3 linked regions of the Homo sapiens genome follow. The protein of the gene in region 1 purifies or fractionates together with the protein of each later gene. This does not show direct contact. Each region holds a gene or a part of one and is shown on either strand. Other genes may lie near its edges. The genes, in order: WDR43, UTP18 and APLF.

The links.
Region 2: the proteins of WDR43 (region 1) and UTP18 purify together in Homo sapiens (affinity purification with mass spectrometry; one large-scale study listed by BioGRID and IntAct). This does not show direct contact.
Region 3: the proteins of WDR43 (region 1) and APLF purify together in Homo sapiens (co-immunoprecipitation; one large-scale study listed by IntAct). This does not show direct contact.

What each region holds. Positions count from the first base shown.
Region 1 is NC_000002.12:28,901,112-28,904,778, reverse strand, and holds part of WDR43 (WD repeat-containing protein 43), read right to left. Parts: intron 2,793-3,667; coding exon 2,655-2,792; intron 1-2,654. UniProt on the Homo sapiens protein: Ribosome biogenesis factor that coordinates hyperactive transcription and ribogenesis. Part of the small subunit (SSU) processome, first precursor of the small eukaryotic ribosomal subunit.
Region 2 is NC_000017.11:51,284,406-51,288,072, reverse strand, and holds part of UTP18 (U3 small nucleolar RNA-associated protein 18 homolog), read right to left. Parts: intron 2,829-3,667; coding exon 2,705-2,828; intron 1,591-2,704; coding exon of another isoform or gene 1,314-1,590; exon of another isoform or gene 1,259-1,313; intron 45-1,258; coding exon 1-44. UniProt on the Homo sapiens protein: Part of the small subunit (SSU) processome, first precursor of the small eukaryotic ribosomal subunit.
Region 3 is NC_000002.12:68,515,931-68,519,597, reverse strand, and holds part of APLF (aprataxin and PNK-like factor), read right to left. Parts: intron 1-3,667. UniProt on the Homo sapiens protein: Histone chaperone involved in single-strand and double-strand DNA break repair.

The sequences.
Region 1 (3,667 bases):
AAGAAAAATATTTTAAAATGTTACATTCAGTTACTTTCCTTCCTTCCTATCAGCTGTGTACTCCAAGAACTAAGTCTTATATACACGCAAGTAACTAAAGGATATGAACAGATACATTCCACAGAAAGAATTCAGTTAGAAAATATACCAAAATATTCAACCTTGTTAGTAATCAAAGAAATACAAACCAAAACAAAGTGGCATTTTTAGTCTGTTCCTGTAGCAATGTGTTTAGCCTTATGATGCCCATGCTGGTGAGGTTACATAATACTATTGCCAGCAGCAGTGTAAACTAGCATACCCTTTTGGAAAGCAATTTAGCGATGTGTTCACTCACTTGTTCACTTACTCATTCAACAAATATTTACTAAATACCACTTACAAGCCAGGCACTTTCAATACATTATTACATTTAAGTCTTAATAAAATCATGCAAGGTAGGCTGTTAATACCCATTTAAGGGATGAGAAGTTAAATTATTCACACATGATCATACAACTAGTAGGATTCAACCTCAGGACAGACTAGCTCCAAAGCCTGGTCCTTTTCCACCTTACCATACCATCCCAGTACCCCTCACCCTGACCCTCTTGACTCCTTTTTGATAAATTCATCCCTGTCGAAGATGTATTTACAATCTTGTAAGGTTGTGAAATGATATAAAAAGGAGTTCTAGGCTGGGTATGGTGGCTCATGCCTGTAACCCCAGCACTTTAGGAGGCCAAGCAGGCAGATCACACGAGGCCAGGAGTTCGACACCAGCATGGCCAACATGACAAAACCCCATCTCTACTAAAAATACAAAAATGAGCCAGCTATGGTGGTGCACGTCTGTAATCCCAGCTACTCAGGAGGCTGAGGCACGAAAATCACTTGAACCCAGGAGGCAGAGGTTGCAGTGAGCTGAGACCGCACTACTGCACTCTAGCCTGGGCGACAGAGTGAGACTCTGTCTTTAAAAAAAAATAAGTCTTCTAGGCTCCAGCAGCCACAGCAGCTGAGCAGCTATCACACTGCACAAGATGCTAGGTACCTGCTGAACACAAAAAACCTATCCAATTAAAGGATAGGCTCCTACCTATAGTAGGTGTAAGAGCTCACCTGAGGACCACACTCGACTTGGAGGAGGGGGGAAGAATATAGGGAAGAATGCTTTCTTGAGATGGATCTCTGAATGCTTTAAAATTCATTTATAGTTGAGTATTATTTTTGTAATCTTAATATAAAAACAAGTAATACATTCCTAAATGCAAACTTAAAATCAGATTAAAATATTCCTCTACCAAATTAGCTGTTTCTTTGTTGTCGTTGTTGCTGTTTTGTTGGGCTATTCAGTAGTGGTAATGATACTGCTGAGATAAAGTACTTATCTCCTATCACTGATATTAAGCATAAATTAGTAAAAATTATTCCAGAAAGTATTTTTATACTACATATATAGCAACCCTTTGGCTCACTAATTTTAGGTTAGTAATTCTGTGAATCCATGTAAGAAAAAGAAATTGTTTTACAACAATTTAAAAATCTGGAAACCCCTAAATGGTCAACAAGTTAAGTAACATAATGGACTATCCCACTTGTTGGGATTTTAAGCAGTCACTAAAAATCTCTATAACCAGTTATTGACAAATATAAGATAGTTATGTTGTAATCTAATGAAAAAAATCAGGATACAAACTAGATGAACAGAAAGCCAACTATATTTTTTTAATGTATGTATAAAGCAAAGAAATATACAAATTATTAAGAGGACCTCTCGGCGACAGACTTAGGTATAAATTTTTTTCCTTTTCAACTTTATGTAGTTACAAATTTCCTATAGACAAATGTTATTTAAAACAAAAAACTTAAAACACTCCTATATACAGAAGTCCAGCGAACAAAAACACACTGCAATAGATATTGTCTGAACCTACTAGACCAGTTCGGTTACTGTCTTCCAATGCCAAACCATCCTTTATATTCTGCTGTGATGCTGGGACTCAGCAACCTGATTTCTGATTTCCCAGCTCGATCCATAGGTTCTACCAATAGCAACTGCTAGAGGGAGACAAGGATGGAGAGAGAAGGGACTTGTTCCTTCCTGTCTCTTTATTTGCATCACCCCAACAGTGGTAATGCCCAACAGCAGCAGCTGAACCCAATATCCAATTTATCCAACCCTAGGAGAACCAATCTCATCATCTCCATCAGAGACACTAGCACCAGGCAGCTGGAGCCTCCTTCTCAGTTTGAAGTCTCGATCCCATGCCCATGGGGCCACTCTTCAAGAGACAGCAACAGCAGCACAACACTTGCCCCTAAAAGATCTCAGTGTTAGCAGTAATTTCAACTGCCTCCTTTATTCCCCTAGGTCAAGAGGTGGGGAGCTGCTTTCCACAGCTGCTATCTATGATTCCTTAGAGTTCCTGTAACCCTTCCTTATTTTAAACCTAGTCAATAAGTCTTCATACTCTGACCCATAATAAGGACTGCTGTTAACTATTATAGCTTTTATCAAATATTACTATTCAGTTATTTAAACGTAGATGAGACTGAAAACTGTCCCTACTGCACAGATCCCATCACATACCTTGAAGTGTTTTTTTTTTAATAATCTCTAATAATCAGCTTCCCTGTCACATCACTTTTAAATAAAATATACACACACTTACTATTAATTTACTGTGTAACTCTCCTTTTACTGTGCTGTATAATAAAATGCTACCAACTGCTGTGCCAAGAGCCAATAAGTCAGTCTGGTTACTCATTCCTACAGCTTCTGATTTCCTTTTTTTCCTCTGGGGACTTTCCTGGAAAAAAAGAAAAACAATGTTTTTATTTAGTATTGCAAATACTAAAACATCGTTAATGAACAAATACAAATGCCCACCAGCCCACAAAAGACATTTTAAAAGGGGGGAAGAGAGAAGCTATTGGGTGATTTACTTCTCACTACTTCAAAAAGAAATCCCTCCAATGGGAAGAGAAACTCGTAATTCTATGTCCCCCGTCTCCCACCCCTATGGAAAAAAGGCAGCAAATAGGAAAACCTAGTATGTTCTTGGTACTCTCCTAACAGGTCCAAGAAGCCTCAATGCTGTTTCCACTTCTCAGAAACAGGCCGCCCCTCCTGACAGGTCCAACCTAAGCGAAGCCTTCACTCCCCAACCAAAGAGATTCATACCCAAAAATCTATGAATCCGTAAGTCCATATCTAAGCAGCCAACTCTCCTTTATCTCTCCTAATTTTTCCACAAATTCTAGCTTAGTTGTCAAGAAAAGAGCCTCAAAAGTTTTTACCTTTATAAACGTGCATTAACTTCAATTTGAGTCAACAAATAGCTTTAACTAGTAGAGCAGCTCAGAGCACACAAGAGAGAAGTTGCCCCACTGACTGGTCAAGGGCTGGCTCAGTGATTCAGTGACTTCAGAGACAAAAGTCTCACTCAAGTGGCAAATGCCACAAGACTTCTTTCATTTCAAAAGTGATGTTAACAGCTCATGTCTTCCCAACAAAAAGACAATGACCCTAACTTAAAAGCACTACATCAGTTTATAATGCTGAGTATTTATTATGATTTCAGAACTTCTCTTCCGTGTTTTTTTAAATTACGGCTCACCAGCCTATATGTTTTTAGCATAAAGTTCTGAGAAATCCATTCTTTCACTGTAAAACAAGCCAATA
Region 2 (3,667 bases), on another chromosome or scaffold:
GACAAGAATCTTGATTGTATATATTTACCACTCCACAATTAGAACTACAAAGAGAAAAGGATTAAAATAGATTAAAAACCAAGTAAAAGGGCTTTCACAACCTAAGTGAATATAGATTTAACCCCACAAACTGGTATTTACAGGAATCATGTTACAAAGAGACCAGCTATCACCACTATAGCCACAGATGTCCTATAGAACCTCCAACCAAACAGGTTGAAAACAGAATTCAAATTCTCCCCCTTCTGTTGACTTCTTGAAGGCTAAACTTTACTGACTCTTCTTGCATCCTGATTCCTTCACAGTCACCTCTTTCTCCACTGATTCTTGTCCCCAGGATTCTATTTCCAACCTACTTCTAGTGTCTCATTCATCTCATTTACTCCCACAGACCACCTATCACCCACCACATCCAAATCAGTGCCTTTAGTCCTAATTATGCACTGCATTCCTAAAGGTTTGTGGGGGTGGCCACATGCATATTATCTCTTCTAACACCATCACCCCTCCTCCCGCCTCCCTTCAATGACAATTCCACTCCTCTGGTTGCACAGGCCTGGAGCCTGAGAATGTGAATACTTCTCTCCCACTCCCCATCTTCTAAGCACTTATCAAATACATTACAAACATCCTTTGCTTATTCCCCCACTGCCATTCCTACTGTCCTGGTGACTCATTACCTGATGCCTGCCTATTGCTGCAGTGACCTCAAGGCTCATCTCCCTGTCCTTTCTTCCTCTTCTAAAAGCTTAAAGATTTGCTTAAGATTCTTTAAGAATAACTTGAAGATTCTAAAAGCTTAAATGGTTGTTGGCCAAGCACATCAGAAATCAATTACACTGAAGGGCAATTAAAATTAAATGAGTTTAAGCTACTAGTATTAGATTCTTTCCTATATAGGCCCTTCAAAGGGGGCTAATAAAAAGTGATACAAAAAAGAGAGGGCAATGAAGACTGGCTTCACAAATCTGAGTGAAGATCATTTCTGCGCAGTTTTTCTTGCCCCATATAGAGGCAAATGCAGTTCTTAAAACTACTTATAATGGACACAGGAAGGGGAACATCACATACCGGGGCCTGTGGGTCGGGGGGGGAAGGGGGAGGGATAGCATTAGGAGATATACTTAATGCTAAATGATGAGTTAATGGGTGCAGCACACCAACATGGCACATGTATACATATGTAACAAACCTGCACGTTATGCACATGTACCCTAAAACTTAAAAGTATAATAAAAAAAATTTAAAAACTACTTATAATGAGTTTAAACAGCAGTCTTCATTTTAAAGGAGCTTTATTCCCAGAAGATCTGCTACTCATGAATTGCTGCCATAGCGCACACTACCCTGGTAAATGCTTGGCTTGTGCTGAGATGTCCCTCGCTACAGGGTTGGCACGGGTATGGGTAGGAAAGGAAGGGGCCTTCATCAGGGCACTCTCCCTCCAAGGGATCTGTTACTGTCTTACTGCCTAAGGCAGATGGCCTGGTCTCCAAGCTCCACAGCCTAGTTCTACTTGCCTTTCCTCCCAAACTCCAATTTGCAAACGGTGGTAGGGATATATATACAAGCAGTTTCCCCAGTTTTAACCTGGAAGGAGAGAGTGAACAAAGAGTAGAGAGTATGCTAAGTTTCTGGACAACAAGACCCCTTGACTTCCCATCCCAGGGAGGATTTGACTGAAATCATTTCATGGCTCAATTGTGTTTGGTCTAAGAAAATCACAAAAACCTACTTCTTGAAGTTACAGAATTATGGGTTCTAATTAGTGGTTTAGTAAGGTAGCTTAGAATTACTGCGAAGTATCCAATGCCTCATCCTCTCACCCTGCATCTTCAGAATCAAGTAGTAGAACACAGCCATCTTTTCCCCAGTGTAATAACCAATGTTTTCAGTAATAGCACAGTACAATGTGTTCTAGATAATATTTTTAAAGTTTCTACAATACTATCAAATGGTATTTCCTAGGAACATGTTTTTTATTTATACCCCCAGCTGGATAAAGGAAAAATGCTTTAGGTATCTTTAAGATTTAAACCCAAAGTTACTTATTCTATCTCCTCATCAATGACAAGAAGCTGAAAATAATTATAGGAAAACTTGATGTGATCAAACAGGTATTTTAAATAGGAAAAAATACAATGATATAAGGTAGCGCCAGCATTTTCTTTGCTAAAAAGGTGTTCAACTGCAATTATAGTAATCCCTTCTTATCTGGCAGGGCGTATGTTCCAAGACCCCCAGTGGATGCCTCAAACTGTGGATTACTGAACCCTGTGTGTACTGTGTTTTCTCCTATACACACATCTCTATAAAAAAGTTTAATTTATAAATTAGGCATAGTAACAGACTAACACAACTAATAATAAAACAGAACAATTGTAACAATATATCCTAATAAAAGTTACGTGAATGTGGTCTCTTGCTCTCAAAATATCTTACATAGATTTCAGATTGTGATTAACCACAGGTAACTAAAACCACAAACAGTGAAACTGCAGATAAGGGGGGAACTACTGTAATATTATTATTCAACACTGCACAAAGATGATAAAATGAAAAAAGCTCAGCTGGGTTGACCAATTTCATATTACTGAATAGTTTATAAAGAGAACTACTCATGCACCACCTAGTATATTCAATTCCTCAACATATTCTCATTAGCACAATGTGATTAAGGTTACAAGAACCTCTCTTTACTTACCCACAAGCAACATACTGTCCATTCCTAGATGTGGCAATGCTTAATCCATATAAACTGCCTTCATCAACAAATCTGTTAAGGCACTTCCTTGAGTTCACATCCCAAACATAAACTTCTCCATCCCCTGCATAAAAGAGCGAAAAAAAGAGTTGTTAATTTTGCTTTAAACTTGAAAGGCAAGTAAACTGGCCACTCTCAGTCCCTCTTAACAGTACAGGAGACTACAAATACAGACCTATTATAACCCTCCTAGTTCTGGAAAACTGGACTAAGAATATTTCTTTTCTTTTTTCCTTTTTTTTTTTTTGAGATGCAGTTTTTCTCTTGTCGCCCAGGCTGGAGTGTAACTGCGCCATCTCAGCACACTGCAACCTCCTTCTCCCGGGTTCAAGTGATTTTCCTGCCTCAGCCTCCCGAGTAGCTGGGATTACAGGTTTGTGCCACCATGCGTAGTTAATTTTTGTATTTTTAGTAGAGACAGGGTTTCACCATGTTGGCCAGGCTGGTCTCGAACTCTTGACCTCAGGTGATCCACCTGCCTTGGCCTCCCAAACTGCTGGGATTACAGGTGTGAGCCACCATGCCCGGCCTAAGAATATTTCTTGTATACATTCACATATACAAAAGAAAACTGCATCAGTTAGTCATTAATAGACAGTACCTTTAGGTTTACAGGAAAAAAATCACAAGCTGTTGGTTTGAGTTGAACTTTTAGAAAAAGCTTCTAAGTTCCACTCAGATAAATTATTGAAGCAAAAATCTGAAGCAAAACAAAACACCACTCACTAGTGTAACTCTTCCAACATCTATCAACAGGTATTAGACTACCTAATAGGCAAGGTTAGCGATTTAGATACCAAAATGTTAATGATGATGGAAGAGGAAGAAGTGAAAAATGAACGGATCCAGAACACGGGAATTTATAATTAAGAAGACACACACAATTTATCTATTACCAAGTTA
Region 3 (3,667 bases), about 40 Mb from region 1:
AAGGAAATGGGGAATCGTAGTGGGGAGGGGCAGACACTTTCCCTCAGTAGAATAATTTCTCTGATAAAAGAAAGACTTAACTTGACCAAAAATTGAACCAATGTGAACTGGTCCCTGCAAATAACTCCTTTTCTTTCAGAATTGTTTTGTACTGCAACTGCTTCTTTGCTACTGCTTATAATAGTTCAACATGTATTTCATTTCAAATACATTTTCTTTCACTTGGTAGATGTACCACTTAAAATATGAATCATGTTTTTGGGCACTTCACTTTGAAAATACAAATGAGAGTAATTTGACATTTTATATATACAATATACATATAATATATTATATTATATATAAATGATATATAATATATAATATATTATGTAATAAATATAGATAATATATATTTATATATTATAAATATATAGTCACATTGGTCCAATTTTTGGTCAAGTCTTTATATATATATAAAATGTCAAATTATATGTTTTATATATTATATATTATATTATTATATATTAATTATATATTATATTATTATTATATATTAATTATATATTATATTATTATATATTAATCATATATTATATATTATTATATATTAATAATATATTATCAGATATTGTATATTAATAGCATATTATTATGTATTATTAATAATATTATATAATATATTAATATTAATGATATATTATTATTTTATTATATATTAATGATATAATATTAATATTTTATTACATATTAATGACATAATATTAGTATTTTATTACATATTAATGATATATTACTAATATTTTATTATATGATAGATTATTAATATTTTATTATATAATGATATATTATTAATATTTTATTATATATTAATGATATATTCATGATATATTAATGATATATTATTGTATATTCATGATATATTAATGATATATATTCATGATATATTGATTTATTATATATTCATGATATATTAATGATATATTATTATATATTCATGATATATTAATGATATATTATATATTCATGATATATTATTGATATATTATATATTCATGATACATTATTGATATATTATTATATATTAATATATAATATAATAATATATTAACATTATTATATATTATTAATGTTATTATGTATTATTAATATGTTATATAATATATAATATATTATTATATATTATATAATAAATTATTATATAATATATAATATATTGTTATATATTAATAATATAATACAGTCATATATTAATATATTGCTATATTAATATATAATTATTTATTAATATATTATATATTATTAAATAATATATAATATATTAATATATTAATATTATATACTGATATATTATCTATTCATAATATATTAACATTATATATTAATGATCTATTATATATTAACGATATATTATTATATATTAGTAATATATATTGATAATATATTATATTACTATTATACATTAATAATATATTATTATATATTAATATATATTAATATTGTATATGATATATTATATATTAATATATATTAATATTATATACTAATGATATATTATATATTAATGATATATTACTGTTATATATTATTATATATTAGTGATATATTACTGTTATATATTAACACATATTAGTGATATATTACTGTTATATATTAACACATATTAGTGATATATTACGGTTATATATTAACACATATTAGTGATATAATACTGCTATATATTAACACATATTAGTGATATATTACTGCTATATATTAACACATATTAGTGATATATTACTGCTATATATTAACACATATTAGTGATATATTACTGTTATATATTAACATTATATTAGTGATATATTACTGTTATATATTAACAGTAGATATTAGTGATATATTAGTTATATATTAACATATATTAGTGATATATTATTGTTACATGTTAATAACATATTAGTGATATATTATTGTTACGTTAATAACATATATTAGTGATATATTGTTACATGTTAATAACATTAGTGATATACTGTTACATGTTAATTACATATATTAGTGATATATTGTTATATGTTATTAACATATATTGACATATGTTAATAACATATATTGATATATTAATATATAGTGATAACATATTGATATATTAATATATAGTAATAACATTGATATATTAATATATAGTAATAACATATATAGATATATTAATATATAGTAATATATAGATATATTAATATATAGTAATAACATATATTACTATATGAATATATTATATAGTAATGATATATTAATATATTATATAGTAATGACATATATTAATATATTATATAGTAATGACATATATTAATATATTATATAGTAATGACATATATTAATATATTATATAGTAATGACATATATTAATATATTTATATATATCAATAACATATATTAATATATTATGTATCAATAACATTATTATATATTGATATATTATATATCAATAACATATATTAATATGTTATAGATCAATAACGTATTATTATATATTAGTATATTATATATTAATAACATATTATATATTAACATGTTATATATTAATAACATGTTATTATATATTATATATTAATATATTATTATATATTATATATTAACATATATTATTATATATAATTATATTATATTATATTATTATATATTATATTATATATATTATATTATATATTATATATAATGTTATATAGGATATATAATATATTATTATATTATATATAACATTATATATAATTATATATATTATATATATAAAACGTGATGCCTCCAGATTTGTTCTCTCTATATATATACAAATACACCATGGAATACTACTCAGCCATAAAAAGGAATGAAATAATGGCACTCGCAGCAACCTGGATGTAATTGGAGAGCATTATTCTAAGTAAAGTAACTCAGGAATGAAAAACCAAACATTGTATTTTCTCATTTATAAGTGGGAGCTAAGGTATAAGGATGCAAAGGCATGAGAATGATGCCACAGACTTTGAGGGCTTGGGAGGAAGGGTCGGGGAGTGAGGGATAAAAGATTACAAACTGGGTACAGTGTACACTGCTCGGGTAATGGGTGCACCAAAATCTCAGAAATCATCACTAAATAACTTATCCATGTAACCAAACACCACCTGTTTCACAAAAACCTGTTGAAATAAAAAATATATATATAATAGTGATGATAATAATAATAATAAACTGTATTGGCTGAAAAATGAAAAAGCCTGACAACAGCAAAAATTCCCCTACATATAAAGGATTAAAGAGTTAAACTGAGAGATGATCCAGGAGAGATCGCAAGGGCAGATCAAAAAAGGCAAACAAAAACCAAACATATAAAGAGTAAATTTAGGCAGCTATACAGTGATATGCCTTAGTACATGGGCTTTAAAGTTAGTCAGAGCTAGGTCTCAGTTACAGCTCTGGCATTTATTATATGATCTTGGATAAGTCAAATAACATGAATTCATGTTATTTGTCCTGTTCCTAAGGATTCCAAAGGTTCCAAAATATCAAGTTAGTTTCAGATAATCTACATAAAGACCAATAACCACAGTTATGGTCCTAAAGCTGCAAAAGACATATGAAAGTTACTCATGTCTGAATAAACCAAAATGCATCCTGCGAATTAATTTTTAAAAATCTCTCATATTGGCCTATTGATCCCCATCATTTA